Regions from separate parts of the Homo sapiens genome. Here region 2 is linked to region 1. Evidence: fine-mapped expression QTL. Tissue or cell type: whole blood. Region 1 holds a variant in brackets; the other region holds the start of a gene. All regions are shown on one strand. Distances are from middle to middle.

Evidence for each region. PIP is the estimated chance that this variant, and not a neighbour inherited with it, causes the effect.
Region 2: GSTM3 starts here. The variant in region 1 is fine-mapped to the expression of GSTM3 in whole blood (INTERVAL, PIP above 0.99).

What each region holds. Positions count from the first base shown.
Region 1 is chr1:109,701,818-109,704,498 of GRCh38, forward strand. No RefSeq gene overlaps it. Among named protein-coding and RNA genes, the nearest start is that of GSTM5, 9.1 kb to the right of the region's middle. The variant C/T (reference allele first, on the strand shown) is at 1,623.
Region 2 is chr1:109,739,546-109,742,226 of GRCh38, forward strand. It overlaps GSTM3 (glutathione S-transferase mu 3), which reads right to left and starts at 1,493. Exons shown (of 9, transcript NM_000849.5): 1 at 1,408-1,493; 2 at 695-966; 3 at 288-363. The coding sequence starts at 742. RefSeq lists a silencer at 703-932.

The sequences.
Region 1 (2,681 bases):
CCTTCTTCCTGGCTCCTCAGAGTCCTTGCAACAGCAGGCACTACTTCTCTCTCCTGCACTCAACCCCTCTCCCACTCCACTGCCTCTCAGTGTGCCAAAACACGAAGATGTGTCCTGATTTTCAAAATCTCTCCCCTGAAGTTCCCACCTGATATGTAGTTGGAGATGGGCAAATACAGCGTCCTTGAAGCATCATTTTATTCATAGTGCCTGGAATGTAGTAGGATCTCGACAATTGTTGTTTCAATAAAGGAATGACCAAATATATTAATACTGTAAAAAGTAAAGTAGAGGTTCCTCTTCAAAGAGACTTTTCTCCCCATCTAATTAAGAATAAGTCGTAACTTCTCTTAGAAGCAAAATTTATTCAAAGACCGGTGCTGATATTCTGAAATATCTGCTAGCTGTAATAAAGAAATTAATGTACTTTATGTTCTTAACTCCCACAATTTAGCCTAAATACTTGCCCTGGCATGCTTATACTGATCCAAACAAGCATGAGGTCATAGCCTGTTCCTCTTCCTTATTTGAAGGTGTTTTTACCTTTCTCAGCGTTCCACAAGTGAGTTCCCCCTTCCTTTGTTCTCCTCTGCCTCTGCCTCTTTTAAAAAGTTCTAAGTTGCTAGCCAATCAGGACAAATACAGAATGTGAGGTCCCGTTCCAGCCAGTGGAAACTGGACACAGCAGTAGGGTGGACACATCAAGTTATAAATGACCCTTTCTCCTTTGTTCAGTGTACTCTCGTGGTAAAACTGCTGGCGAGTGTACCCTTTCTGCAGAAAGTAAAAATGGCCTTTGTTGCAGGAAGTCAGGGACCCCGAATGGAGGGACCGGCTGGAGCTGCAGCAGAGGAACATAAATTGCAAATATTTCATTTTAATATGGACATTTATCGGTTCCCAAATTAATACTTTTATAATTTCTTATGCCTGCCTTACTTTAATCTCTTAATCCTGTTATCTTCTTAAGCTGAGGATATAGGTCACCTCAGGACCACTGTGATAATTGTGTTAACTGTACAAATTGATTGTAAAACATGTGTGTTTGAACAATATGAAATCAGTGCACCTTGAAAAAGAACAGAATAACAGCGATATTTAGGGAACAAGAGAAGACAACCATAAGGTCTGACTGTCCGCAGGGTCAGGCAAAATAGAGCCATATTTTTCTTCTTGCAGAGAGCCTATAAATGGACATGCAAGTAGGGAAGATATTGCTAAATTCTTTTCCTAGCAAGGAATATTAATATTAATACTCTGGGAAAGGAAAGCATTCCTGGGGGGAGGTCTATAAATGGTCGCTTTGGGAATGAATGTCTGTCCTATGCAGTTGAGATAAGGACTGAAATACACCCTGGTCTCCTGCAGTACCCTCAGGCTTACTAGGGTGGGGAAAAACCTGGCCCTGGCAAATTTGTGGTCAGACTGGTTCTCTGCTCTTGAACCCTGTGTTCTGTTGTTTAAGATGTTTATCAAGACAATACATGCACCGCTGAACATAGACCCTTATCAGGAGTTCTATTTTGCCCTTGTCCTGTTTCCTCAGAAGCATGTGATCTTTGTTCTGCTTTTTGCCCTTTAAAGCATGTGATCTTCGTACCTACCCCCTGTTCGTACACCCC[C/T]TCCCCTTTTGCAATCCTTAATAAAAACTTGCTGGTTTTGAGGCTCGGGCGGGCATTACGGTCCCACTGATATGTGATGTCACCTCCAGCAGCCCAGCTGTAAAATTCCTCTCTTTGTACTCTTTCTCTTTATTTCTCAGCCAGCCGACACTTATGGAAAGTAGAAAGAACCTACATTGAAATACTGGGGGCAGGTTCCCCCAATATCTGGTGCACCAACATGGTTTTCTTTTTCCTAAGTGCATGTGGGAACCTGATTCCCTTTGGTAGGTGTGGAGAAACGATCATCAGTCCAGTCCTCAGAAACGCTTGTTCGGCTCCCTGATGATTGGTGAATTTTCTATGTATTGTCTCGGGTAACTATGGGTCACATGGAGTCTAAATATTATGCTTATCTCTGCTATATTAAACTCCTGTTAAAACAGGGTGGAGTTTGGGTGCCCATGGAAAATATGGTCACCCTATTCAGGGTGTTGGAAGAACACTGTCCTTGGTTTCCTGAAAAGGGAAAATTAGATGTGGAACTATGGGATCGCGTTGGTGCAAAATTCCAGGAACTGATCCCATCAGGAAATTATGTTCCCTTCACTGTTTGGGGTGATTGGGCCTTGGTATGTGCCATCCTAACGACATACCAATCCCGTGACCCCCTGCAGTTACCACAGTTTTCTGAATCTGGCGACCTTCTACCTCTTCCACAGCTTTCCTCTCCCACTCGGGCTTCATTATCTGCTCAGCCTCTCCCTTCGCCTACTCCTCCCCCACCTAACGATATTGAGGATTCAATATCTAACTCCGGTGACTTTGGCTTAATGTCACCCCCGATGGTCTTATTTCTTTTCATGAAGACCTGATACTTGTAGCTCCCATGGCCCTGACTCGGACAGCTCTGCACCATATCTATGCTAACTCTTCCCTTTTCAAATCTTTGCAGGCTTTGCCTCCAGAGCCATCTAATGGCTCCAGACCAAACTACAATTTACCTGTAATTCTGCAGGCCCTCCCCCACCGCAGCCCCTCACCCTCCTGTCATTTCGGTCCCTCAACCAGTCACTTTGC
Region 2 (2,681 bases), 38 kb after region 1:
AAGAGCAAAAGATCTAAAGAAATGACTTGGTCCCAATACCTCAAATTCCCAGGCCCCAAAAGCATAACCATTGAGCCTCTGAGCCCTATTTGGTTAAGCATTAAGACGGGTTTGGGCTATGTTAAAAAGAGAACCCCCAGTTCCAGATAAAGGATGTGTCTCTATTCACCCAGATTGGGGCAAACGTCCCACCCGGCCTTGGCGCGACGCCACCACCCTCTGGGCGTAAGAAGACCAGGGCAGGTGGAGGGCCAGCTTGGCTGCACGGGCACGCGGAGCGGCATTACCTTCCCCGCACGTGTACCGTTTCTCCTCATAAGAGGTATCCGTGAACTCCAGGAGCAGGCGGATGGCGTGCGCCAGCTGGGGAAGACAGCGGTTCAGCGACTGCGCAGCTCCCACCCATTCCCAACCCCCGCCCGCTAACGTTCCCCGGCCCGGGGCTGCCGAGTCCCTGCGTCCTGCCGGGGCGGTGGTTAAGCGGCCCCTAGGCCCGGCTCCGGCGTGGTCTCCTCCGCCCCTCCCCACAGGGCCCGCGATCCCAGAGGCTGGGCAGGGGTCGACATCCGTGGCTCGGCAGCTCGAAAAGGCTCCCGCGTAGAGCTGCTCCTGCTGGAGATCGCGGACCCAGAGACCCGCCCTCTCCGCGTCAGTCTCTTTGACCGAGCGGCTCTACCGTTGAGACGGCACTCACCCCACGAATATCCCAGTACCCGAGAACCATAGACGACTCGCACGACATGGTGACGGGCTTCCGAGCCTTCGAGGACTAGGGAAACTGTGAGCGGGAGGGGCTTTATACCCGACATAAGGGGGCGGGGCCCACGCGCGGGCGCCCTGACTCCGCCTCCGCCCCGTTCTCCGTCCCTTGCCTCCGCGGCTCCACAGGGCCGTGCGCAGGCGCGACTAATGCCGGCGTTGGGGTTCAGGGCCTGGCGACCCCGAGGCGGGACCCGGGCAGGAGTGCTGCAGGAGAGCAAAGGACCCGAGGTTGAGGCTCCTCCCTTCCCCGCGGGTGGGAGCCAGACTTCATTCATTAATGGTGCCAGTGAAGACGCGAAAAGCACCACTAGCCAGGCAGTGGGGACCCTAGTTACCCAGGGAGAGCGAGATTCGCGCCGTTTTTACCGAGCCAGCCGGGGCTGGATGAAGGATAGGAAGACTGGGGCAAGGCCGGAGAGTCAGACCAGCCTCTGACCACACAGAGCAGAAGATTCCCCACAGACCAAGCTCCCCTCTCTGTCAGTCAAGGACCTCTGCAACCTGACCCCAACGTGCTTTTCCAGTCCTGTCTCTCCCTCAGCCCGTCACAACTTCATAAGCCAGCCCAACCCAACAATACTTGCTGTTCCTTCTACACACACTTGCATTTCCCACCTTGGAGTGTTTGCTCTGTGATCCTCCTACCTGCATCCTAATTTCCACAGCCTATCCTTCCTCAGCAGCCTTGCTGAAATGTCTGCCTATTCCTTGAAGCCTTCTCAGAACCAACCTCTATCCTGGCCAGAAGAGGTCTCTTATCTTGAATGTTTCCTACCTTTGTTTTATGGGCTTAAGTAATTTATGGATTCCTTATTATAATTTCCTCCTCCAATCCCTCCCACTTCCTAATGCTCACGCATTTAGGGAAATTAATCTTGCCTCTTTGTGTAGGATGGACTGGAGGAGGAAAGGTACTACCATTTTTCATTCACTCATTCATCTGTCCAACAATGTTTAACATGCCTGTTATGGACAGGCACTGTTTTAGGTGCTGGGGATACAGAACTGAACTCAACAGACAAAATCCCTGCCCTCAGGAAGTTTACATTCTAATGGGGAAGAAATAAACTAATATATAGTAAATAGCTAGTAAGTCAGGTGGTGATACACATCCTATGGAGAGAAATAAAATCGAGAAGAGAGATAGGGGGTCTCAGGGTGGGAACTGGGGGAGTCCCAGTAGGAAGGGGATTTATGTTTTTAAAGGTTATGTTCATAGAAGGCCTCATGGAGAAGTTAATCTTTAAACAAAGACCTGAAGGAGGTGAGAGATCAAGCCACTCTGCTGTGGGGGCCACCATGGGCTGATATAAATATAAAACAGAATAATTGCTGTTCCTTTTACAAGCATGTTTGCTCTGCTCCTGCCTGCACCCTAATGTCCATGGCCTAGCCTTCCTCAAGTAGCCGTGCTCAAATGCTCACTTCTTCCTTGAAGCCTTCTCAGAATCACCCTCTATCCTGGCCAGAAGAGTTCTCTCCCTCTCTTATCTCGAATCACTTCCTACCTGCAGGAGGCAGAGAGAACTCCAGGAAAAGGGAAACAGCAAGTACAGGAGTGATCACTCTGTGTTTGAAACCAGAGACTAGATGAGATCACCATGGGAGCACGAGTAGCAGAGATGAGGTCTAAGGGTTTGAGGTGCTCTGGCATATCAACATGTAAAGGTTAGGGAAAAATGAGAGCAAACCAGCAAAGGAGTCTGAAAAGGAGTGGCCAGGGAGGTAGGAGGAAAACAAAAGGTCCCAGAAGCCATGTGAAGATGTTTAAAGGGAGAAGTGATCAACTATGTCAAGTGTGGCTGATCAAGTAAGATGAAGATGGAGAATCAATGGTTGAATTTAGGAAAGTAGGGGTTTTGACCTTGACAGAGCAAGAGACCTGCCCGAGGCCCCTATAGTCATGGGAAGAACTAAGC